Homo sapiens: one gene and its partners. The protein of the gene in region 1 purifies or fractionates together with the protein of each later gene. This does not show direct contact. Each region holds a gene or a part of one and is shown in the gene's direction. Other genes may lie near its edges.

What was found.
Region 2: the proteins of IL9R (region 1) and POMT1 purify together in Homo sapiens (affinity purification with mass spectrometry, with the first as the bait; one large-scale study listed by BioGRID). This does not show direct contact.
Region 3: the proteins of IL9R (region 1) and TMX4 purify together in Homo sapiens (affinity purification with mass spectrometry; one large-scale study listed by BioGRID and IntAct). This does not show direct contact.
Region 4: the proteins of IL9R (region 1) and UBE4A purify together in Homo sapiens (affinity purification with mass spectrometry, with the first as the bait; one large-scale study listed by BioGRID). This does not show direct contact.
Region 5: the proteins of IL9R (region 1) and TTC17 purify together in Homo sapiens (affinity purification with mass spectrometry, with the first as the bait; one large-scale study listed by BioGRID). This does not show direct contact.
Region 6: the proteins of IL9R (region 1) and LSR purify together in Homo sapiens (affinity purification with mass spectrometry; 3 studies listed by BioGRID and IntAct, with this or other methods). This does not show direct contact.

The regions. Positions count from the first base shown.
Region 1 is NC_000023.11:155,994,685-156,000,707, forward strand, and holds the start of IL9R (interleukin-9 receptor isoform 1 precursor), read left to right. Parts: upstream 1-3,011; 5' UTR 3,012-3,059; coding exon of another isoform or gene 3,060-3,075; coding exon 3,076-3,103; intron 3,104-6,023.
Region 2 is NC_000009.12:131,514,720-131,519,954, forward strand, and holds part of POMT1 (protein O-mannosyl-transferase 1), read left to right. Parts: intron 1-706; coding exon 707-803; intron 804-1,838; exon of another isoform or gene 1,839-2,304; intron 2,305-2,807; exon of another isoform or gene 2,808-3,184; intron 3,185-3,325; exon of another isoform or gene 3,326-3,424; coding exon of another isoform or gene 3,425-3,634; intron 3,635-3,725; coding exon 3,726-3,818; intron 3,819-3,978; coding exon of another isoform or gene 3,979-3,996; exon of another isoform or gene 3,997-4,117; coding exon 4,118-4,238; intron 4,239-4,669; coding exon 4,670-4,767; intron 4,768-5,235. UniProt on the Homo sapiens protein: Transfers mannosyl residues to the hydroxyl group of serine or threonine residues. Coexpression of both POMT1 and POMT2 is necessary for enzyme activity, expression of either POMT1 or POMT2 alone is insufficient.
Region 3 is NC_000020.11:7,975,617-7,979,809, reverse strand, and holds the end of TMX4 (thioredoxin-related transmembrane protein 4 precursor), read left to right. Parts: 3' UTR 1-2,464; downstream 2,465-4,193.
Region 4 is NC_000011.10:118,368,431-118,373,665, forward strand, and holds part of UBE4A (ubiquitin conjugation factor E4 A), read left to right. Parts: intron 1-200; coding exon 201-374; intron 375-992; coding exon 993-1,105; intron 1,106-3,083; coding exon 3,084-3,236; intron 3,237-4,076; coding exon 4,077-4,236; coding exon of another isoform or gene 4,237-4,257; intron 4,258-4,655; coding exon 4,656-4,858; intron 4,859-5,063; coding exon 5,064-5,235.
Region 5 is NC_000011.10:43,361,042-43,366,276, forward strand, and holds part of TTC17 (tetratricopeptide repeat protein 17 isoform 1 precursor), read left to right. Parts: intron 1-5,235. UniProt on the Homo sapiens protein: Plays a role in primary ciliogenesis by modulating actin polymerization.
Region 6 is NC_000019.10:35,261,415-35,266,649, forward strand, and holds part of LSR (lipolysis-stimulated lipoprotein receptor isoform 2 precursor), read left to right. Parts: intron 1-510; coding exon 511-567; intron 568-1,131; coding exon 1,132-1,278; intron 1,279-4,944; coding exon 4,945-5,118; intron 5,119-5,235. UniProt on the Homo sapiens protein: Probable role in the clearance of triglyceride-rich lipoprotein from blood. Binds chylomicrons, LDL and VLDL in presence of free fatty acids and allows their subsequent uptake in the cells.

The DNA.
Region 1 (6,023 bases):
AGTGCAGTGGCATGATCTTGGCTCGCTGCAACCTCTGCCTCCCGGGTTCAAGTGATTCTCCTGCCTCAGCCTCCCAGGTAGCTGGGATTACAAATGTGCACCACCATGCCCAGCTAATCTGTGTATTTTTAGTAGAGACAGGGTTTCACCATGTTGGTCAGGCTGGTCTCAAACTCCTGACCTCAAGGGATCCATCTGCCTCGGCCTTGATTCTTTTGTATAGAACCACACCTGGCCTTGGTTCTTTTGTATAGTTTCTATTTCTCCTCTGAGATTTCCTATGTATTCATTGGGAGCATATTTTCCTTTATATATTTGAGCATAGTAAGAGTATCTGCTTTAAAACCTTTGCTATTTCCAACAACTTATTCCTGGAAGTCAATCTTCATTGATTATCTTTTCTCTTAAGCATGGGTGACATAGTACTCTTTCTTCATGTGTTTGATAAATTTGTTTTTATCTTAGAAATTGTGAATGGTATACATTGTTGAGACTGTGTGTTCTGTTATATTTCTCTGGAGGGTGTTTAAAAATTTTTTTTAATTTTGTTTTTGTTTGTTTGTTATTTTAGCAGGCAGAAAACTCTGTGTCCTGAGGTGAACAGCTGAAACTTCTGTTCAGGTTATTTAACCTTAGCTGGGCTCCTTGGAGTTAGCTGGCAGATGTATAGTTCAAGGGTCATCCAGAGATTTGGGTAGAATTTAGATGTAGAATTTGGGGCTCTCTTCTCTGGTTTTTCTTTTGAGAATTTCCTTTCTCCCTATCCAGCCCTTGTGGTCTCTGCTTCTGAGGTTATGATATGGGTAGTGTGGTCTGCTGGTCTTGAGTTAGTAAATTCTGGCTTCAGCAAGATAGAAGGCACACTGACAGAAAGAAGCTGTCTTGGTAAGGACACTAGTGCAGGGATGGCTCCAGTGAGTAGAACAGTATATGCTTGTAGCAGGTAAGACTGGAGCCAAGCTGATTAAAATTCAACCCCAAAGAACACACAAGTAATAAATACATGAAAAGATGCTTATCTTGACTAATACTCAAGGAAGTACAAATTAGAACCACATTGAAATATCTTAGCCTATCAGATTGGCAAAGATGAAAAAGACTGATAATGTTTACTGTTGGTGAAGGTTACAGGCATTCTTACATTGTTGGTGAGAGCAAAAGTCTGTGCAACACTTTTTATGTAGGGCCATATCTCAGCATCTATCAATATTTTAAAATGCTAACCCTAAGACCCCACAATTCTACCCCTAGCAATTTATCCTACAGTAGGACTCACTCTGTTGTTTGAAGATCCATGCCCAGAATTATTCACGAAATTCACTTAAAATAGCATATATGCTTGAACCCAGGAGTCTGAGGCTGCAGCGAGCTATGATCATGTCACTGCACTCCAGCCCAGCCTGGGCGACAGAGCAAGACTCTGTGTCTAAAGAAATGAAAATAAAAATAAATAAAATAGCATATACAGGCAACAATCCAAATGTTCATTGCAGAAATTATGATTATTATTGTTTTTCTTTTAGAGGCAGGGTGTCACTCTGTTGCCCAGACTAATCTTGACCTCCTGTGATCCTCAAGAGATCCTCCGGTCTCTGCTTCCCAAAGTTCTTGGATTACAGGTGTGAGGCACTGGGCCTAGACATTGCAGGGATTATTAAACCATGGTGCATACTACCATTAAAGGTATGAGGTAGGTTTTATATGCTGACCTAGAAAGATGGTGCAACACCATAGGGGAACAAGAAGGCTGCAAAGTGGCAGCACAGCAGGAGTCTTTAAGAAATAGGTATTTGTTTCAGCTTAAGAAGTGTCTGGCTGGGCGTGGTGGCTCACACCTGTAATCCCAGCACTTAGGGAGGCTTAGGTGGGCGGATCACTTGAGGTTAGGAGTTCAAGACCAGCCCAGTCAACACGGTGAAACCCCATCTCTACTAAAAATACAAAGAAATTAGCTGGGCTTGGTGGCAGGTGGCTGTAATCCCAGCTACTCAGGAGCTGAGGCAGGAGAATCATCTGAACCCGGGAGGCCGAGGTTGCAGTGAGCCTAGATCGCACCACTGCACTCCAGCCTGGGTGACAGAGTAAGACTCGGTCAAAAAAAAAAAAAAAAAAGACCGGGTGCGAGGTGGCTCTCGCCTGTAATCCCAGCACTTTGGGAGGCCTAGGCAGGAGGATCACAAGGTCAGGAGATCGAGACCATCCTGGCCAACATGGTGAAACCCCATCTCTACTAAAATACAAAAATTAGCCGGGTGTGATGGCACACGCCTGTAGTCCCAGCTACTCAGGAGGCTGAGGCAGGGGAATCGCTTGAAACCAGGAGGTGGAGGCTGCAGTGAGCCGAGATCACGCCACTGCACTCCAGCCTGGCGACAGAGCAAGACTCCATCTCAAAAAAGAAAAGAAAACAAACAAACAAACAAAATCCCCAAAAAGCAAAAGTGTCTGCATGGACTTGTGCCTAACTACTCACAGTGGCTACTTCTTGGGGGAGGTGAAAGGGGACCCTGTTAAAGAATTTTTCTTCTGTATTGTTTTTCTTCAACTGAGTCTGCATTAATTTTATATTTAATACTCTCCCCACCCCTGATGCTCACAGGTTGCTTTAGCTGGTGGAAGGAGAACCTGCACCTCTGGTTTTGGCAAAGTGTAGAAGGGGACAAGGGCACTGCTCTGCACCTGCACAGGTTCTTGCCTCCTGGGGTCAGTTTAATGAATCTCAGTGGTGTTTCTTGGGAAGAACACAGTGGACACTCACTTGCCAGTCAGTAGACAAATCACTGAAGTCCATGTCTGGCAGTTCTCAATGTCATGGGGACTGTAAGGTTGTCATGTCTCACAGTTCCCTGACTTAGAAGATTAGTGGTGACAGACACTTCTCAGCTCTGCTCGGGAGAGCAGCTCTGTAATGCGCTTGTGGTTTCAGATGTGGGCGGCCTGTGTGAACCTGTCGTGCAAAGCTCACGTCACCAACTGCTGCAGTTATCTCCTGAATCAGGCTGAGGGTCTTTGCTGTGCACCCAGAGATAGTTGGGTGACAAATCACCTCCAGGTTGGGGATGCCTCAGACTTGTGATGGGACTGGGCAGATGCATCTGGGAAGGTGAGTCTGTGCTTTGGGCTTCCCAACCTCTCAAGTCAGCATGAAATTCAGAAGGCAGAGAGGGACATGTGGCCCTCCAACTCGGGGCCCAGGGAGCCACTGTGGCATTTGAGAGCGCCACCCTAGCTTTACCTCCTCTGGTGTCCTGGCCTTGTGTATCTCTTAGAGATGGCAAAATTTGCAGCCCTGACCTCAAGGATTACAAACTAATTTCCAGTCCTGTAGGGGTCATGGGTTCTGCTGTGGCCAGTGTGGCACTGAGTTTGTCAGGCAGAATTTCTAATTATGGAAGGAACTCTGCTTCCTCAGTGATTGAACTGACCTTTGTGGGGGTGCCTTTGTGGGGTGAGAATGGGCATACTTGGGCCTCAGTTGTGATGGCCATGGGGTGGAGCTGAGGTCTAGGCCCAGGGCTGGGAAAGCTTCTACCAACCCCGAGGCATTTGGGTGTTTTAGGGCAGAAGAGGAGCCAGGAGGATGGGTATGCCCCACTGGAGCTGTGTGTGGGGCAGCAGGTGAGGGTGGGATTCCAGAGGGAGGGTCAACCCAGCCAAGCAGAGGAAGGGGAGGAGAGGGTTTGTTTTGGAAAGAACATCACCCTCTCAGTTTCCTGGGGTCTGGATAGCCTGTTCTTGTGATGAGCTGGAGGATGTGGGCCCTGCTTGGATCCTCCTCTCCCCTCCCTGCCCCCATTTTCTCTTCCTGTGATTTATGCTGTTCTGGGCTCACCCTCTTCCCAGAGCTGTCACGCTACAGCTGACAGGCAGGGCAGGCGTTTTAATTATTATTAATTTTTTTTTGAGACAGAGTTTGAGACAGTATCAAGAGTGGGTATCCTCTCAGCGTGTCTTCAAGTAGCATCCCAGAGCCCCGCTCCTGGGTACCCACAACATGAACACCGTCCAGAAGCAAGGGCAGCCTCTGCAGGTGGGGCGGGGGTTGGAAAACATTTATCAAACGGTTGAGTTGGGTGCAGGGGATGCAACATGATCAAACAGGGTCTTGCCTCCAGGAGCCTCATGTAGGGACAACGCACAGTGATGACCTTCAACTGCAGTGGGGCAGCAAGGCTGTGGGAGGGGTGTTTTGGGCAGAGCAGGCGACGTGGGTACCTCTTCACCAAGACAGCAGGAAGAGCACGGACATCATTTTCCCGTCTCACCTCCAGACTCCCAGGGGACTGTGCCAATATCCTCACTCCAGCCCTGGCCCATGGCCACTGCTCAACCCTTGGGCCCTGTCAGTTCAGGGCTGTGCAGAAGGAGAGTTGCCTGTGCTCAGGCTCAGGGGTTCCGTCCAGCTAAGGAGGCCTACTAGGGGACTGGGGAAAGGCCTCATGAAGGACCAGGCCTGTGATGGGGAGGGAAGATGGCAGAGGGGACAGTGGGAAGCAGAGCAGCAGGGGTCTCCTCCACGCCTCTCTGTACTTCTCCCACCCACCCTTGCCTACTCCCCTCTGCCCTGGGTATGTGCCCTTGTCCACCCAACACCTCTGCAGTGCCAAGTCCAGCCCTGACTTCTTCCTGAGCTGTGGCCCAGCGTTCCCACAGGCATTTACCTCACGGATGCAGCACTGCCCCTCATCCTCTTCTCTGAAAGTGTGTGGGAAATGCTTCTTGGTGCCATCTCTCTCCCACCCTGCCTTCCCTGCACCTTCTCTATGAGGTGTCTGTTGTCTCTGTACTTGCCTCCAGCTGGCCTTTCAGACCCCATCCCTCCTGCCTCCTGCCCATCCCTACCCCTGTCAGCACCTTACATACTCTGTGCCCAACAGCATTGGGGATTCCCACTGTGCTGAAGGAAGTCCTCATGTGGTCCAGAGAGGGAGCTGGCCCCTGCTCCCATTTCCAGCACCATTTTCTGGCACAGGCTCCATGTCCCCAGGCTCCAGCTGCTTCTGGGGTACCAAGGTCTGCATTTCTTCCTCTTCCCCCAGCAGACAGAAGACCTTGCTGGACAGGTGTCCACTTCAATAGTAACTTCTGAGGCTGCCAGCCTCCTGAATGGTCCAGAAGAACCAGACCCTTCCCCGCCCCCATTAAAAAAGACAAAATATGGCCAGGCATGTTGGCTCATGCCTGACATCCCAGCACTTTGGGAGGCCAAAGCAGGTGAATCACTTGAGGCCAGGAGTACGAGACCAGCCTGACAAACATGGTGAAACCCTGTGTCTACTAAAAATACAAAAATTAGCCAGGCGTGGTGACTCATGCTTGTAAATGCTTGTAATCCCAGCTACTTGGGAGGCTGAAGCAGGAGGATCACTTGAACTCGGGAGGCAGAGGTTGCAGTGAGCCGAGATCACGCCACTGTGTTCCAGCCTGAGCGACAGAGCGAGACTCCGTCTAAAAAAAAAAAATATATATATATATACACACATATATATATGCATAATAGTCTCTGTGTAACAGTAAGTGGATGCAGTAACTGGTGTGAGGGCAACTTGGAGAGTGTGCTTGGAGGCACAGAGATGCTCAGGGCTGCCTGGACTGCCTCCATGATGGTGGCCTGCTCTGTATTAGGTGAGTGTTCAGGAAAGGTGAGGGCAGGGCAGCCCACAGCTTCACAGTGGCCCAGGGAAGCAGGGCAGGCAGGCTATGAGGCCTAGTAGGCATCTGGGCCAGACTTTGACACTGAGGCCATGGAATGGGTGGGGCTCTGAGAACAGACCAAAGTGATCATGGGCTGAAGGCTATGTCCACAGATCCAAGGCGGGATAGGCTGTGCTGGGCAGTGATGTCAGCCAGGCTCCCCAGCGGGACTGGGGGTGTCAGGGGCAGCTCTGTCCCAGGTGGCAGACACTGGTTTCCCCTCCTGCTCTCACAACCGGCCTGTTACCAGGTGTTGTCTGAGCTGTGGTGAGGCTTCCCTGGTGACATTCAGGAGCAGGGAGCCTGTGAGTAAGGGTGTATGCATCTGC
Region 2 (5,235 bases), on another chromosome or scaffold:
CCAAGGTGGGCAGATCATTTGAGGTCAGGAGTTGGAGACAAGCTGGGCCAACATGGTGAAACCCCGTCTCTACTAAAAATACAAAAATTAGCCAGGCATGGTGGCATGTGCCTGTAATCCCAGCTAGACAGGAGGCTGAGGCAGGAGAATCGCTTGAACCCAGGAGGCAGAGATTGCAGTGAGCTGAGATCGCGCCATTTGCACTCCAGCCTGGGTGACAGAGTGAGACTCCATCTCAAAACAAAAAAGAAGTGGGTGTTCGTTAACATTGAGGTTGATAGCCTTTTCTCCCAGCTTATCTGCTGCGTCCCCAGGCCAGCTGGGCGCAGGGGCGGGCAGCTCAGCCCTGCAAGTTGTAGCATTGGTACTGCCAGCTGGCATCGCAGCAGTACCGGATCGGGCCTGGGCGCACGGTTCCTTCCTCTGAAACTTGGTTCGCTCGTCTAACAGGTGGAAGGTTCCACAGCAGAGTGTCCTTTTCTTTTGGAGATGTTCCCACAGGGCCTCCTGCCTGTTTAGTGTCCACTCCCATCGCCGAGCCTCAAGACCTCCGTCCTCAGTAGCAGCAACTCATGGGACTGGGCCACCCCTTATGGCTGAGCCGGCTTTGTTTCTGAAAAGCAACCTTTTCCTGCCTGAAAGATTTAGTAATTGCCTTCCAGAGGAGTTCAAGGAATTTTCTGAAATCTCGGTCTTGGTTTTCCAGGCATGATGTTGCAGCCCCCCTGAGCCCCCATTCACAGGAGGTCTCCTGCTACATTGACTATAACATCTCCATGCCCGCCCAGAACCTCTGGAGACTGGTGAGTAAGGCTGCGGCTATAGCAGCCACAACCGTCAGTAATGAACACTCCCTCACACGGAGCACTTCCTCACCCGGAGCACTCCCTAACACAGAGCACTTCCTAACAGAACACTTCATCACACGGAGCACTTCCTCTAACACGGAGCACTTCCTCTAACACAGGACACTTCCTCACACGGAACACTTCCTCACACGGAGCACTTCCTGTAACAGGACACTTCCTCACACGGAGCACTTCCTCTAACATGGAGCACTTCCTGTAACACAGGACACTTCCTCACACGGAGCACTTCCTCTAACACAGGACACTTCCTCACACGGAGCACTTCCTCACAGGGAGCACTTTCTCTAACACAGGACACTTCCTCACATGGAGCACTTCCTCACATGGAGCACTTCCTCACAGGGAGCACTTCCTCACACGGAACACTTCCTCTAACACAGGACACTTCCTCTCACACTCACACGGAGCACTTCCTCTAACACAGGACACTTCCTCACACGGAGCACTTCCTCACACGGAGCACTTCCTCTAACACAGGACACTTCCTCACACGGAGCACTTCCTCACATGGAGCACTTCCTCACAGGGAGCACTTCCTCACACGGAACACTTCCTCTAACACAGGACACTCTCACACTCACACGGAGCACTTCCTCTAACACAGGACACTTCCTCACACAGAGCACTTCCTCACACGGAGCACTTCCTCACACGGAACACTTCCTCACACGGAACACTTCCTCACACGGAACACCTCCTCACACGGAACACTTCCTCACACGGAGCACTTCCTCACACGGAACACCTCCTCACACGGAGCACTTCCTCACACGGAGCACTTCCTCTAACAGAACACTTCCTCACACGGAGCACTTCCTCACAGGGAGCACTCCATCACACGGAGCACTTGCTCACACGGAGCACTTCCTGACATGGAATGTTTGAAACTGCCGTTGAGAATAATCATTTTTCCTTTTTTTCAGTTTACCCAGTTGAGGTTGGATATTTAGAATAATTCTGATTCAGATGTAAAGTTACATAAGTTTTATTCGTACATAAAGTCACAGATGTTTTCACAGGGAACCGATGCGTCTTCCTTGGTGGAACTGGGGAACCTGGTGGTTTCCTGCATCAGAGGCCTGTGTTCACTGAGATTCTAAATGCTTTGTGTTTGCTCCATGTTGGGTGCCAGGTGCGCTTGAGGCTCTGCCAGGTGAAAGTTCTCCCAACCTGTTTAGCCTCAGGAGCAGGTCCTGAACACAGGACACGAGCTCCAGCCACCCCTCTGCCACCATGATCCAGGAGAAATTCCATTTCTCAGGATTTCCCTGGGGACAGGCTTAGCCGTGAGTGCGGGGGATGTTCCTGAGGCGCTGGGTCTGTGGTCACCTTTCCTTCCAGCGACCAGGGCCACCTGCTCCCCTTACGGAATCGGGTCTCCTGGGAAAGGTTCCATAAAAAGTCTTCTGTTACTGGACCATGTTGCCATCTGAATCTAAGGACATGGACACTAAATGCAGCCCAGCCCCATGACCACAGTGAAGGCACTGGGCTTATTTCCATAGTGAGGTCACACCCCCCCTTCTAGCTTCCCACTGGCTTCAGCGCTTTCTGCCTACGCAGGCTCAGCCCTGTTTCGCTTGACAGAGTTAGCACCACGTCCTCATGGCCAGCCCTCACAGCAAAGCCAGGTATCTGCTGATGTTCTTTTTTTTTTTTTGCGACTGGGTCTCACTCTGTCACCCAGGCTGAAGTGCAGTGGCGTGATCTTGGCTTACTGCAGTGTTGGCCTCCCAAGCTTAGGTGATCCTCCCACCTCTGCCTCTTGGTATTACAGGTTAGCCACCATGCCTGGCCCCTGTTAATTTTGAATATTTAATTTTTAAAATATTTTTTCTATTCCAGGACAGTCTGATTTTTAAAATTTTTTGTGGAGATGGGGTCTTGCTATGTTGTCCAGGCTGGTCTTGAACTCCTGGACTCAAGCCGTCCTCTTACCTCAGCCTCCCAGAGTCGCTGGGATGACAAGTGTGAGCCACTGCTCCAGATTGGCTGTTCCATTTTTGTGCAGAGTGCGCCCCTCTGCCCCACTCGCCGTCTCTGTGCTCTGCATATCTGTGTGCGTTCTGCATTTCCATCCCCGCCCCCCCACAGTCCTTCCCTGACGTGAGTGCTGTGCCCCTTCTCACGGGCACCCTTCTCTGTCCTTTCTGATGGCCCCTTTGGCACCAGGAGCCCACATTTCAGGTGTCTGAAGTTCATAGAACAAGGAAGGAGGGAGCATGCGTGAGGTGTGCGCGCCCGGCCTGCGGCATGGACCGCGGCCAGGCCTCCTCATGCCTGCTCCTGCCTAGCTTCTTGGGTTCTCTGGTTGTGACAGTATGGGAAAATGACAGTCATGTGATGTCATGGGGTCATTGTGAGGCTCCAGTATGTCAGGCTGTGACAAGGCAAAGTGCCTTTCAGATGTTAGTTGTCTTTTTTATTACTCGATGCGAGGAAATCTCTAAGCTGTGTCTGGCAGGGACAGTGTCTGGCCTTCATCTGAGCTGTCTGCGAGTCCTGCCAGATAGGGACTGAGACTTGCTCACTTTTTGGCCAGGGCTCTGAGCCCTATGAATAGGCTTTGCAGAGAGGCACGAAGAACATCAGGCTTTGTATTTTCTGTGAGGAGGCCTCTTGTACGGCCTTGGCGAGGAGGAGGGTGCACTTCCCCAGCGACCCTCGGAGCAGCCCGGGGTGCTGTGGGCATTGGGAAGGAAGGCCAGTACCAGCCCCTTATAGCTTCCCTCACTTGGGGACTTGTCCCTTTGTCTCAGGCTCAAGTCAGTATCATTGTTTGGTGACAGGTCTTTATTTTTACATTGAAGGAAATTTGAAAAGGAATGAAATAATCCTTGAGATGTCTTTTTGCAGGAAATTGTGAACAGAGGATCTGACACAGACGTCTGGAAGACCATCCTCTCAGAGGTCCGCTTTGTGCACGTGAACACTTCCGCTGTCTTAAAGGTAAGGACACTGTCCGTGGCTTGGCCTGTCCTGAGCTGTGGGCTCCAGTCTGTTTCCCAAGCCCCTCAGGCTTCACCGCCTCTCTGCAGGCGGAACGCTTCATTTGAGTCATCATGGCTTCCTCTTACACTGAGGGAGGGCGGCTTTTGTAACTTCTCAGGATGGAATCCCAATGTGAATCTCCCACAAGGGGCACCTGCTGACAGCGTGACCCGGGCAGGGGTTCCCCTTCCAACCCAAGTGGACACGGGAGCCACGGCCTTCCCATCACGCCCTTTACTCTCCTGCGGTGTCACCAGCTGAGCGGGGCTCACCTCCCTGACTGGGGGTATCGGCAACTGGAGATCGTCGGGGAGAAGCTGTCCCGGGGCTACCACGGGAGCACGGTGTGGAACGTGGAGGAGCACCGATACGGCGCGAGTGAGTCCGCGGCGTGGCTTCCGCCGCTCCTGGAATGTACTTTCAGCTGCTCAATATTTGATAACACCCCAGAGTTCTCATTTTGGTGGGAAGGGAACTGAGCACATTCTCCATGCTCGGTGGCAGGTCATCTCCCTCCCTGCACCCTGCACTCAGCTGCTGCAGTAATAACTCAAGACGCTTCTTCCGAGGTGTCGCTGGAAGGCAACCAGTTTATCCCCGTGCAAGTGGAGCTTTCTCAGGGTCGAAATCACCTCATTTGACCGGGCAGTCTTGGGTGTGGTGGGGAAAGCTAAGTGGAATGATGCGGTTCGATAAGGGGTCTTTGTTAGAAAGGCAGGAAGCCAGCTTTTTGCTGCACTGACAGCTTCTGCTCTGAGCTCTTGACCTTGTGCTACTTCTATCTGTTATGCCCTTGTCTGTTCTGCCAGGCCAGGAGCAGAGGGAGCGGGAACGGGAGCTGCACTCACCTGCGCAGGTGGACGTCAGCAGGAACCTCAGCTTCATGGCGAGATTCTCGGAGCTGCAGGTGAGGAGCGGCCAGGGGAAGCTGGCCTAGCTCGCTGAGCATTGACTCCTCAGCAGGGAGGCCTGGGGGCTGCACAGGACTCAAACCAGAGTCAGGCTTTGACGCTGGAGCTACAGGCTCACAACAGAATGAGTGTCTCCTCTCTCCAGTGTAAGGGACTGTGTGTGACACCCCTGGCCCACACCTTGTGGCCCTGTGGTCAGGAATAATAGGGACCCAGGAGGTTCTGCAACATCGCCAGGGTGTCTTAAGGCCCCCAGGCAGCGAAATGGGCCACACTCAACAGAGCCCAAGAGAAGTCACAATCAGAAACTCACGGTCACAAATCTGAACGTGACCTTAGAGAGCATTCAGCCCAATCACTTCGTCTACAGAGGAGGTAACTGGAGCACATAGGGTGGGGCGACCCTCCCAAGGCCACATTCAGGGCTGGAATCCAGGTTCTCATCATGCTGCCTCCGATGCATG
Region 3 (4,193 bases), on another chromosome or scaffold:
TTGGATAAGGGATATTTGACCTATATCTAATTATATAATAAGAAAAATGTATTTTCTTTTTTTTTTTTTTTTGAGATGGAGTTTCACTCTTGTTGTCGCCCAGGCTGCAATGGCACAATCTTGGCTTACTACAACCTCCGCCTCCCTAGTTCAAGGGATTCTCCTGCCTCAGCCTCCCAGGTAGCTGGGATTACAGGCATGTGCCACCATGCCTGGCTAATTTTGTATTTTTAGTAGAGACGGGGTTTCGCCATGTTGGTCAGACTGGTCTTGAACTCCTGACCTCAGGTGATCCGCCCGCCTCAGCCTCCCAACGTGCTGGGATTACAGGTGTGAGCCACCGTACCTGGCAGAAAATGTACTTTCTTTCTCAGAAATACTTTTAAAAAAAATTGAAGGGTGAGGAGAAAAACATCTTGGAGAAGAGGACCCATTAAAACTTTAAATATCTGTGGGAACCATTTTTCCTGATTTTCCCTTTTTTAACATCATGGCAAAGATGGGTTTTTTTCCAACAAAATTTAATTTAATATCTTTCCACTTGAAGATTTTAGGTTTGTTTTCAATACTTAATGAATATAAAACTAAAGGAGAAAAGCCAACCTGAAATAATTTAAACTTTATATGAACATTTCGATAAGAGTTTGTGGATTTTTTCTGTAGATAATATATTTGATCCGGAACTCAAGTGCATGGAAACATGATTTTGATTTTTAAAATCTAAAAAAAAAAAAAATTAAAATCATGCTTCCCTCTATTGCAGTATCAGTTATTTAGTCACAGAATGGTATTTTATGTAAATTAAAATTAGGTGAATGCAATGCAGGTAACTGGTTTTGGAATGGGAATGTGCAGTGCTTTATGTTTGGGGAGTTGGAGCAGGGTATCTTTTCATCAATTAGAAGGAAAGTTTGAAACTTCTGATTACCTTTATGTTGGTTTCTCTTATTATTTGTCTCTTGCTAGATCTGCTAAACCAACCCAGCTTGCTCAGAGATCTCATATTGAAGCAACATACAGGCAATCCACATCTTTCTTTCCCTTTGAAGTATAGTCATTGGATGGGATGAGGGACAGGGCCTGTTGGGTTCACAGGGCCTTGCACTGCATGGGCACATACTTAAAAGCTCTTGTGCATGGAATCCCTGTCTGTTAGCCACAGGCCTCTTTAGCTCTATACATTCAAAATAACTACTGTAGTAGAAAATAGATAAGCTTCAGCTGAGTTGGCTTTTGATAGTGGAAAAAAAACAAAATTTGACTTTTTATGGCCAAAATTCCTTGTTGACAGCTGTGATGTTCTAATATGATTTGGGAATATGTCAGTCTACAGAACCTGCATCCTGTAAAAACACCTTTGGGGTAGACGATAAAAGTCATTTTTAAGGCAAATACTTACCATGTGACTTTTTATTACCAAATGCATCAGTAGTGGAGCTGGTATGTTGTTTCATAGGATGGAAACATTAGAAGTCCAGAGAAAAATAAATTTTAAAAAAAGGTGGAAAAGTTACGGCAAACCTGAGATTTCAGCATAAAATCTTTAGTATGAAGTGAGAGAAAGAAGAGGGAGGCTGGTTCTGTTGCTCGTATCAATAGGTTATCTGTGTCCCTCATCTTGGTGTTACAGTGTTATTTCTGTCAGTATTATGAATATGTGGTTGACCCATCCTGTCAAATGTACCAACATTTTCGAAAGAATTCATTCAAATCTCTTATGCCAACAGAAAAGTTCCTTCTTGTTTAATATCTCTTTACCTCAGTCCTACATTTTGATTCTCTGGAGGAGATTTTAGCTTGTCTTAAAAAGCCAAATTTGGAGTCATCAAGCCTGCTGAACCTGATGGGGCAGCTTTTTGAACAGCTTTCTGGAAGTAAGAACTTCAGTTGAAAAGCCCTTTGATCGCTTCAGCCCGGGACATGCCCTTCAGATGGCTTATTCTCAGTAAAGCTTTATGTAGACTGTGACACTGTATATGTGTGACTCGTACAACTTTGACGTGTTTCTGAAGTGGTTTAATCGTATTTGTTATTAGCTTCTTTGTGGAAATGCAATTTTTATACTAAAAACATTGCTTATTTGCAATGCAATATGTTATAAATTTGTTGTTTATATTACTGGTATTAGTCTTAGCCTAATGAACCTAATTATTTTTCTTTCTGTATTCTTTGCTTCCTCAAATAGCATCTGCAGCAATTGGAATGAGAAATCCAGATATGTGTTTCAAGTAGTACATTGCCTGAATCACAAATCACTTGATCACAGTATTGTATATAATCCCTGATCCTATTTGTTTCATTTTATTGTAAATTCCCATTTGCATCAAAACCTAATGATAGTGATTGGTAAGTAAAAACAAATGGTGTATTGCTTTTCATACAAGTGTTTTCACAAAAGCCATTTGCCTAGGCAGCAAAAAATATTAATTTGTTAAAAAAAATTTTCCTTCGTGTCCATCCTCCATCTAGTCTGTTCATTCATTCTCTCTCTTTCTCCCTTCCTGACTCGGTGAAACTCAGACCATGTGCCCTTTAGTTGCTCTGGAAAGTGCACAAAACCAAGGCAGGGTCCAAAGATCCAAGGCTCTTCCAGCCAGTGTGTTGCCATCAGAAACCTCTGGGGTCTCCCTCTGTCCTGAGGTCTTGGGGTAGCCAGATGGCAAGGGATGCTACTAATCCCCCAAGACACTGTGGATTGGTCTTGTCTTTGGGGCTTTCAGAAAACTCCCTTCTACACCTAACTCTCCCCACCACTATAGTGGAAAAGCATCAAGGTGGTAAGGTGGGTCCTTGAAACACCCTCAGAGACTGAAACAATGGAGATTGGATTTTTGTCTTTTGGAAGATGGTGGGGGATGTGTGTAGTGAGAAGACAGTTACTAAACCTGCATACCACCAAGGCCCTCCCTCAGAGATACTGGCTCAGAATGCTTATTTGCCTATACAGAGAAAAATGTCTGTCGTGCTGTCTGCCTAGATGACTTTGGTTATTCATCCTTGCCTATAGCAAAATGCAGCTTTCAAGCCAACAACACTGAATTACAAATTTAACCCCCTGCTTTGCTCTAGTCTTGAATGCTCTTTGGAACATATTTCACAGTAATAGAAATTCTTTCTTGGAACATGTGAGCTTCTTGAGATTGATAACTGTATTACGACAGTCCAGCCTGTGCTAACAGACCCGCAAATCTCGGGGGCTTTAAGAACAAGAATTGTATTACTGATTCACATAGCCCAGGCCAGGCATCCCAGGCAGGCTCTGTCCCATGCAGGTTTTTCTGGGCCTCAAGGTCAAGGGAGGCTTTGCTGTTTAACATGTGGCTGCTGGGCCGGGCATGGTGGCTCACGCCTGTAATCCCAGCACTTTGGGAGGCCGAGGGAGGTGGATCACCTGAGATCAAGAGTTTGAGACCAGCCTTAGTAACATGGCGAAACCCTGTCTCTACTAAAAATACAAAAATAAGCCAGGCGTAATGGCAGGTGCGTATAATCCCAGCTACTCAGGAGGCTGAGGCAGGAGAATTAATTGAACTCGGGAGGCAGAGATTACAGTGAGCCGAGATCATGCCTTTGCACTCCAGCCTTGGCAACAGTGCGAGACTCCATCTCAAAACAAACAACCAAAAAAACGTGGCTGCTAAGGTGGCTGTGATCATTTCCATCCCAGTCAGTCAGAGGAGTAAGAGATGGAGGAACATTGCTGAGAGATTTTAAAGCGAGGCTGCCACACGTGCATCATTTATGTTCACATTTCCTGTGAGAGGACTTAGTCACAGGGTCATACCTAACTTAAAGGAAGACTAGGATGTGTAATCTTGCTGTGTGCTTAAGAACAAAGGGAACTTGAGAGCTAGCAATCTCTTGCCACAGTGACTTTTTCTTGCCCACCTTTGTGAGCCTAGGACCTTCTATAGAGTAAGCTCCTGGGACATAGTATGAATGCACATATGGCAGGAGAGGGCAGAGTACATATGGCCCCAGTGCTGGAGGTCTTCCTGCTGGACTTGACCACTGTGGCTCTTCAAGGTACCAGAGTTTTCAAACTGAGAATTGTCATTTCATGGAGTTTGTATTTTACTTGGGAAGGTGAATATTAGCAGGAAAAGAGTTACAAGTGAAAAAGTTAACAAATGCTATATGAGTTTATAAAAAGGAACCTGACCTAGGTTGAGGGTGTAGATGGTATGTGTGAC
Region 4 (5,235 bases), on another chromosome or scaffold:
GTAAAATGTGGTAGGATTTATAGCCAGGAATTTCAAAACCCTATATTTAACTTCCCTGACTTGAGATGTTCACTAATTAGATGATTAGCTTGTTTTACATCTGAAATTATCATCTTCTTGGTTACATTTATTATTTTTGGTAGCATGCTTGGTTCTCTCTTAAAGGGGTGTAACATTTAACAGTATACATTTTCTGGCAGATGAACTCCCAGCTAGCCCAGATGACTCGGATAATAGCGTGTCAGAGAGCCTGGATGAATTCGATTACTCTGTGGCTGAGATTAGCCGCTCATTCCGATCACAGCAGGAAATATGTGAGCAACTCAACATCAATCACATGATCCAAAGGATCTTCCTTATTACTCTGGACAACAGTGAGTTACAAACTTATAGCATTATTCTACCCTTCCTATTTGAGCTTGGGCTAGGGGCTTGCTCTTTGAAACTGGTTACAGCTAATGGTTAGATACAAACCTACTCACTGCACTCCCTGGAACTCAGGGTTTATATTTCAGTGAACCTTTTGGTATGACCTAAAAACAGTATTTAGATGCAGATCTAACTTTTGTTCCCATTTCAATACTGACTGCACTATATAGCTACTTGCCTTTACTACCTTAAAAAGGAAATGGGAAGGGTAGCCAAACCCATTTTCTTCTCAGAGGTAACCTAAATATTCAGATGGAAGCCTTCAGAGGCATCAGAGAGTGTTTGCCCTCTGTGCCCTGTCTGTGTTTAAACCCCAAGGTTGGTACTAATGTCTGGGATTTACTCTTTAAATGTCATGATGCTAGGTTTATAACAAATCCCATTCTCTGTGACTAGAGGGGGAAAAAAAAAGATTTGAATCTTTAGATGTTGCTTTGTGTATCAGGATCATTCTGGTATTACTTGAGTCAGATTTGCAGTTCAAGAGTGATGCTGTCAAGATCAGTTGTCTGTATAAAACAGAAGCATTATCCTTAACCTATCATATTAAAACCATTTCCCAGGTGATCCCAGCTTGAAAAGCGGGAATGGCATCCCTAGCCGTTGTGTGTATTTGGAAGAAATGGCAGTAGAGCTAGAAGATCAAGACTGGCTTGATATGAGCAATGTTGAGCAGGTAATATTCTTACGTTCCTAATGTGTGCCCTTAGCAAAAATTAGCTATGCGGCTGAATTCTGCTCACTGTTCTCCAACTTATGCTTGTGTCCATATGTCCATCCCTCTCTCTTTTTTTTTTTTTTTTTTTACCAGTAGAAGGCCAAGTAACCTGGATGTGCATCTCTAACATTGTGGTGTTCCTCTTTTGGAATCTTTTCATCTACCATGGCCACATGCCCAAATCTACCCATCCTCTAAGAACCAGTTAAAATGCCTTCTTAATTACAAAGCCTTGGCCAGGCACATTGACTCACGCCTGTAATCCCAGCACTTTGGGAGGCTGAGGCAGGTGGATCACGAGGTCAGGAGATCAAGACCATCTGGCTAACATGGTGAAACGCCGTCTCTACTAAAAATACAAAAAATTAGCTGGGCATGGTGGTGGGCGCCTGTAGTCCCAACTACTTGGGAGGCTGAGGCAGGAGAATGGTTTAAACCCAGGAGGCGGAGGTTGCAATGAGCCGAGATCATACCACTGCACTCCAGCCTGGACAACAGAGCAAGACTCCGTCTCAAAAAAAAAAAAGAAAAAATTACAAAGCCTTGCCAAATAAAAGTTGTTACTCCCTCCTCTGGGTACCTAGAATAATCAGCCTCTGAATCTCTTGTGGGAATTGTCACTTTCTGTCTCATGTTGCGGCTTTCTTATGTACCTGTCTTATCTCCCCTATTAGACTTAAGTTCTTAAGGGCAAGGCCCATCGCTTTTTCTTCTTTATATCCTTTCTATCTTAGTCTGTTTTGTGTTGCTATAAAAGAATACCTGTGACTAGGCACAGTGGCTCACATCTGTAATCCCAGCACTTTGGGAGGCCAAGTTGGGAGGATCTCCAGGCCAGGAGTTACCAGCCCTGGCAACATAACAAGACCATGTTTCTACAAAAAATACAAAGAATTAACTGGGTGTGATGGCATGTACCTGAAGTCCTAGCTACTCAGGAGGCTGAGGTGGGAGGATTGCTTGAGCCTGGGAGGCAGAGGCTGCAGTGAGCCATAGTCACACGACTGCACTCCAGCCTGGGCGACAGAGCAAGAAAGACCCATCTAAAAAAAAAAAAAAGAACACCCAAGCAGTAATTTATAAAGAAAAGTTTATTTAGCTCACAGTTCTGCAGGCTGAGAAGATTCAGGGTATGTCCTTGGCCTCTGGTGAGGGCTTTTGTGCTGCCTCACAATGTGGTGGAGGAAGTCACCAAAGGACACATACCATGAGGACGCATGCAAGGAGGAGAAAACCTGAGAGGTGTCCTGGCTTAATAAGAACCCGCTCTGGAGGGAATTTGTCCATTCCTATGAGAATTAATCCAGTCTTGTGAGAGCAAGAACTCATTCAGCACCTTGAGAAAAGCACCAAGCAATTCAGGAGGGATCCGCCTCCATACCCAGACACCTCCCACTAGCCCCACCTCCAACAGTGCCACATGGAGATCAAATTTCAACATGAATTTTGTTGGAGACAAACATATAAACCACAGCACTTTAAAAATCAAAACAGTGCGTTGTACCTTGCAGGTGCCTGAGTAACATTAAAAGAATAAAAGTTTGGTAGGAAAGACAGTTGACAGCTTGCAGTTTAACTTCACATTTGGAGTATCTTTATATAAGTCTGAATGAGATCAGCAATCACACAGAATAGTAGATTTCACATCTAAGTTTAATCACTGATCTCAGCACCATTCAACAAATAGTCTTTTAATGCCTACTCTATGCTGGGGCTATACTAGACACTTGAGGCTTGATTTAGGATAACTTTATATATGCCATAATTTTCTAAAATTTTCTAAAGTAAAAATATACAGGGCCCTTTTTTTCTCCTTCACTCTACATTCAAATCTGTGATTCTTGCTAATAACCTGTGTCAGAATTACCTTTTACATCTTAATGTTCTCAGATTAATTTTGCAATAGTTTAGTATTTTTGTTTGGTTTTCTTTATAGGCCCTCTTCGCTCGCTTATTACTTCAAGATCCAGGCAACCACTTAATTAACATGACTTCTTCTACAACGCTAAATCTCTCTGCTGATCGAGATGCAGGAGAGAGGCACATTTTTTGTTACCTTTACTCCTGCTTCCAGAGAGCCAAGGAAGAGGTAAAGGAATAATCCCCATTGAATACTGTATTGTCCTCTTGGGTATGACTTCAGCATGTGGGCCAGAGTTGGATCAGTCTTTATTTCAATTTATATATGTCATAGTATGTCTAGAAGTGAATATCAGGGACACTAAAGCTTTTATATCAATTTATATATGTCATAGTATGTTTAGAACACTGGATATCAGATGCACTAAAGCTTTAGTCTCCTTTCCGTATCTTGGGGTCCACCCTTCTCCCCAGTTAACCAATGCCTCCTATTCTCTCTAAAACCTCTTTAGAAATCACATCCTTAAAAAAATCTCATGAGGCTGGGCACAGTGGCTCACTCCTGTAATCCCAGCACTTTGGGAGGCCGATGCAGGCGGATCACATGAGGCCAGGAGTTCGAGACCAGCCTGGCCAACATGGCAAAACCTTTACTGAAAATACAAAAATTAGCCGGGCATGGTGGCACACATTTATAATCCCAGCTACTCAGGAGGCTGAGGCAGGAGAATCACTTGAACCTGGGAGGTGGAGGTTGCAGTGAGCTGAGATCACACCACTGCACTCCAGCCTGGGTGACAGAGCGAGACTCTGTCTCAAAAATCAGAAAAGGGCTCATGAATTCATTTCCACTGAGATGTAAATATTAGAGTAGGCTAAGCCGGATATTTCCAGGTTTGGAATTTTAAATAGGCAGATAGATGATTCCTTAAGCCAAGGAAGGAATCTCTAATTAATTTTCAAGCATCCACAGGAGACCAGTATGTCTCTTCTATTGTATTCACTATGTCTACTTTCGTTCCAGATTACAGAGTTAGACTATTCCCTCTTTTCTTCATGCTGTTTGCAGATTACCAAAGTTCCAGAGAACCTGCTACCCTTTGCAGTGCAGTGCAGAAACCTCACTGTGTCCAATACCCGAACAGTTCTTCTCACCCCAGAGATCTATGTTGACCAAAACATCCATGAGCAACTGGTAGATTTGATGTTAGAAGCCATCCAGGGAGCCCGTGAGTACATGAACAAGATCTGTAAGCTTCTACATTTTGATTTTCAGATTTAAAATTTCACTAATTGCATTAGAAAGTCTCAGAGCCATTATGGTTCTGGTATAAATTAAGGAGGAGGGCTCACATCTTGATCTTTGAGGTTGAGTACCAATAGAATAAAGCTGGGCATGGTAGCACACCCCTGTAGTCCCATCTACTCTGGAGGCTGAGGCAGAAGGATCCCTTGAGCCCAGGAGTTTGAGGCTGTAGTGTGCTATAATCACACCTGTGAATAGCCACTACACTCCAGGCTGAGCAAAAAAACAAGACCCCCAGCTCTAAAAAAAAAAAAAAAAGAATTATTGAAAGTAAAGAGCTAGTGTGTAAAGGCATATAAAAATTCTTGTGCCCTCCTTTCTCTCTCATTTGTCTTCTGTTAGATTTTGAAGATGTAACTGAGTTTCTGGAAGAGGTCATTGAAGCCTTGATATTGGATGAGGAAGTTAGAACATTTCCAGAAGTCATGATTCCAGTGTTTGATATTTTATTGGGCCGAATAAAAGATCTAGAGCTCTGTCAGATCCTTTTGTATGCATATCTGGATATTCTTCTCTATTTCACTAGGCAAAAAGATATGGCAAAGGTAGGTCTGAAAGATGATATGTATTCAGTTGAGCTAGATGTGTAATACATGATGCTTCCCTATCCTGAAGACACTATAATACTACCTATAAAATAAGAAAAAGATAGCTTGGTTGTTGTATCAACTTAACTGTTTTGAGGCCCTCCCACCCCATCACCTTATCTCACCATGAAGATGAATAAGCAGAACTTGTCTTCTCTTACAGGTTTTTGTAGAATACATTCAGCCCAAGGACCCTACCAATGGGCAAATGTACCAGAAGACCTTGCTGGGAGTAATTCTGAGTATCTCCTGCTTATTAAAGACTCCGGGTGTTGTAGAAAATCATGGCTACTTTTTGAATCCATCTCGTTCCAGCCCCCAGGAGATCAAAGTAC
Region 5 (5,235 bases), on another chromosome or scaffold:
CCAGGGGAGGAAAGTTGGATTTAATCTGAAGAAAAGGCACCACATATAAATAAAGTAAAAGAATTGGGTGCTGTGGTGAGCTGCCGAGTTCCACTCTGATAGCTGATTGTGCATGACCCATGCTTCCCTTCCTGGCCATAATTTGTATGCAGGTAGAATCCAAACTATCAATTTAGATCGTGATTAATTATAATATTTGTATATACTGTACTTAAGGACTTGAAAGATCACATTAGTGTATGAAATCCATATATATTGCAGATTTGTACATTCAGAAACATAATTAAAAGCTTAGTATATACAGATGCTCCTCAGCTTATGAAGGGGTTATGTGCTGATAAACTCATTGTAAGTCGAAAATACTGTAAGTCAAAAATGCATTTAATGTACCTACCAAACATTGTAGCTTAGCCTAACCTACCTTAAACGTGCTCACAATACTTACATTAGCCAAATTTGGGCAAAATCATCTAACAGCATCTTTTACAATAAAGTATCAAAATACCTCATGTAATTCATGAATACTTCACTGAAAGTGAAAAACAGAATGGTTATATGGGCACTCAGTACAGTTGCTACCAAATGCATGTCACTTTTGCAGCATTGTAAAGTCAAGAAATTATAAGTTGAACCATCGAAAGGTGGGGACCATCTGTATACTTTGTCCTGACATACCAAATTCTTGCTGCTTATTCTTGGTTACAATATTTGAATGAGAGCATAAGTGTGATTTCAGTTTTAAAGTGACCTACTACCAGGCAAAGGGCTAAGGGCTAACTGGATTAACAGCTTTTAGAAAATTAGAGTGGTACATACCTTTTGAGAACCTTTAATATTAAACACACCCAGATTAGATATATGGGTCATTGTTTTCCACAGTGATCATAAAGAAGTACTTATGACTTAAAAATCTGAATTGTCCAACCATCATTATAACTTTTTTTTTTTTTTTTTTTGAGATGGAGTTTTGCTCTTGTTGCCCAGGCTGGAGTGCAATGGCGCTATCTTGGCTCACCACAACCTCCGCCTCCCGGGTTCAAGTGATTCTCCTGCCTCAGCATCCCGAGTAGCTGGGATTACAGGCATGCACTACCACACCCGGCTAATTTGTGTGTGTGTGTGTGTGTGTGTGTGTGTGTGTGTGTGTGTGTGTATTTTTAGTAGAGACAGGGTTTTACCATACTGGACAGGCTGGTCTCAAACTCCAAACCTTGTGATCCGCCCACCTTGGCCTCTCAAAGTGCTGGGATTACAGGCGTGAGCCGCTGTGCCCGGCCATTATAACTTTTTAAGTACATCAAGGAGTCTTTCCCAGGAGAGATGAAAATTCATTTGATTTTTTATATTTCAAGGTTTAGCAGACAATAAAGATAGGCACCCACCAGTTACATACCGCAGACTTGTCAACATGCGTATGTATTGGAAATGGTACATCCTTTGGTGGGTTGAAAAGGGGGTTAAGTAAGAGCAAGGAGCATACATTCCTGCAGGCAACCTCTTCACAGTCAGAGCTGGGGCTGCTGCAGGCAGCAGCTGGTGTCCATTACTTGGCATGATGGTTAAAGGAATTATTTCTTTTTCTTTTAGAGATGGGGGTCTTTCTTTATTGCCCAGGCTGAAGTGCATGGTTACTCCCATGCATTGCAGCCTTAATTGATCTTCCTACCTCAGCCTCCTGAGTAGGTGGGACTACAGGCTTGTGCCACCATGCCCAGCAAGTTGTTGCATTTCACAATCCCTGCCTCAGCTAGGAAGCATACCTTCCCCAATTTTTAGGTTATGTTTACTGAGCTGCCACTGAATTCCCAAATATGGTCCAGGGAATCCTGGAGCTGGGATGTGGAGAGAACATTCCAATCACTAAGTTCCTTTTCCACTGGTGTCAGGGGAAGGCTAAGAGAAACCCCGTCTTCTTCTCCTCTCCGCTCTGTGCTGTTTTCCTAGCTTTGGGCTTTGACATACCTCTGATGCCCTAGTGTCTGTCGCTGGTACCTGAAACCTAGTAAGCCCATCTCACTTTATTTAAGCAGGGGTCCTTAACTTCGACCCCATGGACTTAAGAAGTGAGCTATTATAATCTAGTTACTAAAAGGAGCACTAGCGTAATCAGGCCTGTGGCTCTTTTGGTTGACTTTTTGAAAAATAGGTTTCAAGATAAATTTTGTGTTGTTTCATTTTGATGTTGTTTTTGCTTAATCCCTAGTTTGGCAATATCTACTTTCTGTATTCTATTTTCTATTTTTTAATCAGTGTCTGGTAATTTACTTGCATCAAAGGTTAAACTTGTGAATTTGCCTAAGAGCCTAACCACTCTATGGCACTTCATTTTGTTGAAAAAAATATATGTTCCATGCTCTAGGTAGCAGCTAACAGAGAAACTCTTGAAATGTTACCAGTTTGTTAGTTGTAGCCTTACTGAATCAAGAAGTTGTATTGCTAGTACTGAGTTCTCTGCCTCTGGATATTCTTTTTCTTCATAATTGGAGGGCTAAAAATTTAAGTAAATTAAGAGTATCATCTGTATCAGCTGTCTTATACATTTTAATATTCGTATTCTTTGTCACTATTTCCCTCTTCTCCAATCTTACTTAGAACTGTGGACTTTCAGATTTGGAAAACATTCTTAAAGATTATGTAGTACAACTCCTAAGAGAGAAAGTCACTCAAAGTCGTGTAACTAATGTGTGGCATTTCGTGGCAATAGTAAGTAAAAATGGATTAGTCTGCAGTAGCATGCAAGTGAGCACCTTGTACTCAGTAGATTTTTTTTCCTCTCATAACACTTACAAATGAAGGACTACAAAGAAACATAAAAGCAAAAATGAAAATAATGAAGTAAAGGTATCTTCTTTTCCAGTTTGCTTTATCTCCATAGAATGTTTTGTGGTAACTTAAGATTCAGGGTAAGTGGGTGTGGAAGGGTCCTAAATAAGTGTGAGTTCATTCGGCATTTACTTAATCGTTTTGTCCCCCGGTCAGGCCGGTATCTTCGGAGTACAGATCCTCTTTTTTTTTTTTTTTTTTTTTTTTTTGAGACGGAGTCTCACTCTTATCACCCAGGCTGGAGTGCAGTGGTGTGATTCTGGCTCACTGCAACCTCTGTCTCCTGGGTTTAAGTGATTCTCCTGTCTTAGCCTCCCAAATAGCTGGGACTACAGGTGTGCACCACCACACCTGGCTAATTTTTGAATTTTTAGTAGAGACAGGGTTTCTTCATGTCGGCCAGGCTGGTCTTAAACTCCAGGCCTCAAGCGATCCTCCTGCCTTGGCCTCCCAAAGTGCTGGGATTACAGGTGTGAGCCATTGTGCCCAGCCATTAATAGCTTGTAAGTGAAGGCCTGGTTTAATTTTGGTCTGATGTTAAGTAATTTGGTTAATCTGGGAGAGAGCATCCATATGGCACTGTGAAGCTGACAGCTTTATTTCTGTACTTTTCAAAAGTAACTCATCTTTTTTTGTCATAAAGGACTGTTTCTATGTTTATACACTTCCAGGATTTAGTTACACCTGGAGAGGTCATGGTGGTTATTCACTAATTTGCTAGGCATCTGCCAAACCTTTGCAGTTTGTCCAAGACCTTTGCTTCAAAATGATTCTCATTCAGTCCATTTTTTCAGATATTGTCCACTATTATTTTTCTTCTTATAAATTACTGAGATTCTGACTTTGTTTATGCTGTAGGGCAGTGAGAGGAGCTTGGAAATGTACAGAAATAAATTAGAACTTTAAATAATTTTCCCACTTTTTCAATTTTTTAAATTTTTATTTATTTATTTATTTTGAGACAGAGTTTCGCTCTTGTTGCCCAGGCTGGAGTACAGTGGCGTGATCTCGGCTCACCTCAACCTCCACCTCCTGGATTCAAGCGGTTTTCCTGCCTCAGCCTCCTGAGTAGCTGGGATTATAGGCATGTACCACCACGCCCGGCTAATTTTGTATTTTTAGTAGAGACAGGGTTTCTCCTGGTCAGGCTGGTCTCAAACTCCTGACCTCAGGTGATCTGCCTGCCTCGGCCTCCCAAAGTGCTGGGATTACAGGCGTGAACCCACCACGCCCGGCCATAATGTTTTTTATTTTTTAAAGACAGGTCACTCTGTCACCCAGGCTAGAGTGCAGTGGCACCGTCATAGCTCACCGTGACCTTGAACTCCTAGGCTCAAGTGATCTTCCCACCACAACCTCCCTAGTACCTGGAACTACAAGTGCATACCACCACACCTGGTTAGTTTTTTTTTATTTTTTGTAGAGATAGGGTTGTACCATGTTGCTCAGGCTGGAATTCAGTGGCATGATTATGGCTCATTGTAAACTTGAACTCTTGGGCTCAAGTGATCCTCCCGCCTCAGCCTCCCATGTAGCTGGGACTACAGGCAAGTGCCACCACACCCAGCTAATTTTTGTATTTTTTGTAGAGACGGGGTTTTGCCATGTCACCCAGGCTGATCTTGATCTCCTGAGCTGAAGCAATCACCTGCCTTGGCCTCCCAAAGTGCTGGGATTACAGGCATGAGCCGCCATGCCTGGCCAGCTCATCTCCTTCTTAACTTTGTTGTTTTTGTTTTTGTTTCTTTGCCCTTGCTCTTTTTCATACTCACCCTTTAGATAAGTAGTTCTCAAACTTTACCTTGTACAAAAATAATTGGGGAATTGGGAGTTGCTTGCTTAAAATGCAGATTTCCAAGACACCCAGAGTATCTGATTCAGTAGGTTGGTGGTAAAGCGAAGGATTCTACATTTTTATCAAACTCCTTGGGAGAGTATAATGCAGGTAGACCACACATAGTCTAAGAAATTCAGTTTTAGATATTGCCATCCTTCCAGCTTCTGTTCCAGTTTTTTTAAACTCTGTACATACACCTGAGCATCAGTTACCATATGTATGCTGAGAGTATCTGCATTCCTTTTGTAACTTAGTTTTTTTCTCCAGAGTTGTAGATTTAAGACCTTTTTTTTTTTTTGAGATGGAGTCTTGCTCTGTCGCCAGGCTGTAGTGCAGTGGCGCAATCTCGGCTCACTACAACCTCCGCCTCCCAGGTTCAAGCAATTTTTCTGCCTCAGCCTCCCGAGTAGCTGGGACTAGTTCACGTCAGAAATCTAGTTGTCTTTAATTCCTTAGTCTCCCTTAGCCATCACCAAGATCTTTGTTTTACTAATTATATTTTACTTCTTCCCATAGCTACTATCATTACTCTAATTCAGGCCACCTTATTATTGCCGCAGCTTCCTGTTCTTCTC
Region 6 (5,235 bases), on another chromosome or scaffold:
TGCCTGTAGCCCTAGCTACTTACCCCAGAGGCTGAGGTGGGAGGATCGCCTGAGCCCACGAGGTTGAAGCTGCAGTGAGCCATGATCACACCCCTGCACTCCAGACTGGGCGACAGAGCTGAGATCCTATTTCGTGGGCCCTAGGTCCCTGTGCCTGCTGGAACAGGACATCCCTATCACCGTGGTTGGAGCCCTTTGGGGTGCTAAGACCTATGAATGAGGGAAACTTAGGGTGCCCAAGCTGAGGTAGAGCCCTCAGAACCCCCTGGGATTTGTATTGGAGCCCTCGTGGCATAACACAGGTGGATTATGCAATGGGAGTTTCTTACCTATAAGCACCCACATGTGGGCGGGTGGAGGGTAGGAGCCATGCACTAGGGCTTCAGCCCCCAGCCCCTTCCCGCTTCAGGGCACACCTTGCACTTGGCCAGCCTGGAGCTGGGCTTTCGGGGGTGGCACAGCCTGGGCTGGCTCTGGCCAGCATAATCTGTTTCTCTTTTGTCCCTCCAGGGAGGACCTCAGGGGTGGCTGAGCTCTTACCTGGTTTTCAGGCGGGGCCCATAGAAGGTACGGGGGGTGGATCCTGAGTTGGGCTTCTCGGGAGCTCCCATACATCACCTACTGCTTCTGACTCTAGTTAGTATCCCCTTCCCCACTAAACCCTGCTCACTGTGGACCCCTCACTAACCTGGCCTGACTGTGGCTCTGAGGCATCTAGTGGTCTGGCGCTGGGCCTAGGCTAGGCTGGGCTGAGGAGAGCCTGGGGTGCAGGCCAGGGCTCTGTGACTGGCACCTGCGGTGCTCTTGAGGGTGTGGCGTCTGGGCAGCTGGCTCTCTCTTTGGTCTGGGGGCTGCAGTCTGTCTCCCTCTGTGCAGGCTGCCTCGTTTTCTGCCTTGTGTTTTTTGCACCTGGGGGAGGGCCGTAACTGGGGAATGGCCGGGATGGTAGAATGGGGAGTGTGCTGTGCCCAGCCTCTGGCACAAAAAATCCAGCCAGGGCTGCAGGTTCCTTGGTGAGCTTTGCAAATCGTCCCCGACCTCAGTGCTGGCTCCGCACCATGTACCCCTGCTGTGCCGTTAGCCCTGTTCCCTCCCAGGCCTCCGGGCTCAGGGCCTGTTGTCTTTCTGCAGACTGGCTCTTCGTGGTTGTGGTATGCCTGGCTGCCTTCCTCATCTTCCTCCTCCTGGGCATCTGCTGGTGCCAGTGCTGCCCGCACACTTGCTGCTGCTACGTCAGGTGCCCCTGCTGCCCAGACAAGTGCTGCTGCCCCGAGGCCCGTAAGTGTCCCGCTCATGGCCACCCTGGTTTGGGCAACATCCTGCATCCAAGGGAAGGAGGTGGCCATCCACCTGCCCCCAGGACAGTGGCGTTGGTCTGGAGGGTGTGAATTTAGCCAGTGGGGAGAAAGTAGGCTGAGGAGGGTCTGCTGTTTAGATTGTCGTTTACTTCCTCCAACTTTTAGTTTATTTTTATTTATGTTGTTCTTTTCTTTTGTAAGTATAATCCATACACATGGTAAAAATGTCCAACAGTACAAGATACTAGTCACATGGAAGTAAAGCCCTCTAAAAAAACCAAATCTTGGCTAGGCGCAGTGATTACGCCTGTAATCCCAGCACTTTGGGAGGCCAAGACGAGTGGATCACTTGAGGTCAGGAGTTCCAGATCAGCCTGGCCAACATGGTAAAACCCAGTTCTCTACTAAAAATACAAAAATTAGCTGGGCATGGTGGTGATCGCCTGTAATCCCAGCTACTCAGGAGACTGAGGCATGAGAATCGCTTAAACCCAAGAAGTGGAGGTTGCAGTGAGCTGAGATCACGCCACTGCACTCCAGCCTGGGCGACAGAGTGAGACTCTGTCTCAAAAAAAAAAGAAAAAAAAATGTTAAGTGAAAAAGTTAAGAAACCAAACAAGGTTTACAACACTACATGATTTAAGCAAAAAAAATTTTTTTTGTTTTAGAGAAAGGGTCTCATTCTGTCATCCAGGCAGTGCAGTGCGATCATAGCTCTCTGCAGCCTCAAACTCCCGGGTTCAAGCAGTCCTCCCGCCTCAGCCTCTGGAGCAGCTGGGACTGTAGGCACACACCACCATGCCCAGCTAATTTTTTGATTTTTGTTTTTTGTAGAGACGGGGTCTCAGTATGTTGCCCAGCCTGATCTCAAACTCCTGGCCTCAGGTGATCCTCCCAAGTCAGCCTCCCCAAAGTGCTGGGATTACAGGCATGTGCCACCATGCTGGCCAATTTTTAAAAATTTTCTGTAGAGACAGGGTCTTGCTATGTTGCCCAGGCTGGTCTTGAACTCTTGACCTCAAGTGATCCTGCCTCAGGCTCCCAAAGTGATGGGATTACAGGCATGAACTACCACACCTGGCCTTAAACTTAAGCAAATTTTTTTTTTTTTTTGGAGACAGTTTCACTCTGTCGCCCAGGCTGGAGTAAAGTGGCGTGATCTCTGCTCACTGCAACCTCCGCCCCCCGGGTTTAAGCTATTCTCCTGCCTCAGCCTCCCGAGTAGCTGGGATATAGGCGCCTGCCACCACGCCTGACTAATTTTTGTATTTTTAGTAGAGACGGGGTTTTGCCATGTTGGCCAGGCTGGTCTCGAACTCCTGACCTCAGGCAGTCCGCTCCCCCGCACCCCTACCTTGGCCTCCCAAAGTGTTAGGACTACAGGTGTGAGCCACCATGCCTGGCCAAATTTAAGCAAATGTTTGAAAACACATACCCACAGGAATGCTGCACATTTTACCCAGCTACTATGTCTAGGGTCGTATCTAGCACACCAGCATGGCTACTGTGGAGAGCTGGGACTGGATGTGAGATGAGAGCTAAAGGGGAAGTAAGCAAACCAAGCAGGGGAAGGTAAGAGAAGACAGAAGACAGAGAGAGAGGGACCTAACTCTATGAGAGGAGTCAGACATGTGCAATTGAAAAAGACTTGCTCCTGTCTCTCTTCTGTGAATGTTTGTGAATATCCCAACGGGACACTTTCACAGAGGAGCTGATTGACGTGGTCACAGCCATCAGCCTTGGGACACCAGACCACAGTGTGTACACTAAGTGGCACTGATGGACACTTCAGCATCCCTCTAGCTGCTGTCCCGTTTCCCCTCCTCGGGGACCACAGCTGTTGCCAGTCCTTGGTTTCCTTCAGGAGGGTGTCTGGGTAGACCAGCCTGTGTGCACACAGTCCAAGATACATGAACAGTGAAGTGCCAGGCAATCCTTGCAAGCATGGGCAGGTGGAGAGCTGAGGCCTGCTTGACACCTTCCTGCTCAGAAGCCCAGTGAGCAGTTTCCCTCCCTAGGGCTCAGTGTCATCCCCTATAAAATGGGGCTTATGGCAGAGCTCACCACACTGGGTGCATCTGGGGATTTGGCGAGCTCATGTGCACACCATTGAGCATGGGGCCCAACCTATATAAAATATTCTACGTCTGTCAGCTGCTGGGCACTGCCACTATCAGCCTCAGTAGTGACTGAGGGACAGGGCACCAGTCAGAGCCCTGGTGCACACAGAGTGACCCCAGAGAAGCAGCCTTCCCTCTCTGAGTCCTGTTTCCTTCTGTTAGGTCCTGACTTCATGGGTTGTTGTTAGCATTAAGGAAGTCGCTGGCTAATTTTATAGTCATTGAAGTCAGTGGTGTGCAACCTGGTTCCTCAAAGGATCACTTCCCTGAAAAAATTCCACTGCTCCCTGGAGGCTTATGCAGGCCATCCCATCCCCTCCCTCTTGTTGTGTTCAGCTGACAGCTTTTTGCTCAGTGAGTAAGTGTTAGGTCCATTTCACAGATGGGCTGCAACCAAGTTTGCAGTGAACCCACTAAGACCAGAGCTAGGGCCAGGACTAAATGCTGGTCCCAATGCCACATTCCCCTGTCCCCACACCACATTTCCTCCATCCGGAGACCCTGTTACCCCAACCCAGGGCCCCATTAACTCCCTGGCAGAGGCCCTGTTACATCTGCTGCTGCCACAGCCTCCGCCCACCCTTCAGGAGGCAGCAGGTCCCACTGCTGATGATAAAGTTGCAGGCTGCCTGAGCTAATGAAGGGGCTTCCTCTAGGCTGTGCACTTAGTCTTCTGCTTCCAAACCAAATCAGAGGTGAGGCACCCTCTCTGGGCCCATCTCTCTCCTCCATTTTCCTGTTGGGGTCCCAGGGAGGAAGCCACTTGCCTAGGGCCCAGGAATTTTGCAAGCCTCTTGCCCTAGGGAGGAAGGAAGGGAGGAGGATCTTACCTTGAACTGTCAAGCCTAGAGCCTGGTGGGGCAGGCAGAAATGGGTGCAGTCCATGAGTTAGAAACACTAGAGGAGACACTTTGCTGCTTGGCCGGGGCAGGCAAGTTAATTCCCGAGGCTCCTGCCACTGCATCTCAATCTGGAAGGTGACCAGGTGGGCAGGACCCACGTCTCCCAGATGACTCATTTTTTCTAGAACAGGGGCTTGGCTGCCAAAGAGGATACTTGATTTCGGCTTGTGGGGACAGTGGTGGACCCAGCATCTGGGCTTTATATAAAGGGCAGCTTTGTTGCCCTGTAAACACACAGACCATGGGTGGCCACTTCTTCCAGTAAGTTAGCTGGGGAGTTGGAAGTTTAGGTAAAACCTTTTGATTGACAAATGTTGGCGAATTACCATGCTGTTAAATGAAACATTGTTCTGCCACCCTGGGGCTGTGGGTGCCTGCGTGCACCCTCTGAAAAATCACACAGGAAGTGGGGTGGGGTCTCTGTGAAGCTGGTGTCCCCCAGCCTCAGGGATGCTGCAGAAATGGAATGAGGACCAACAGGGACTCAGATGTCCAAGGAAGCTCTACAGCGGAGAGGACGGCTTGGGAAGGAGGTCCAGGCCCAGGTCCCTCCGGAACCCAATGGGTATGGGGCAGCCTGGCTCCTGCCTCATCCCCCTTCTCCTGTTGATTGTGTCCTCACAGTGTATGCCGCCGGCAAAGCAGCCACCTCAGGTGTTCCCAGCATTTATGCCCCCAGCACCTATGCCCACCTGTCTCCCGCCAAGACCCCACCCCCACCAGCTATGATTCCCATGGGCCCTGCCTACAACGGGTACCCTGGAGGATACCCTGGAGACGTTGACAGGAGTAGCTCAGGTGAGGCCGGGGGAAGCAGGAACAGCTGGTGGGAGTGTGCTGGGCATCTGGACACTGAGGGGCAGGGGCTGGAAGGAAGAGTGTCTTGGGAGCCGAGGAGGGGCTCTGCTCCTGGTG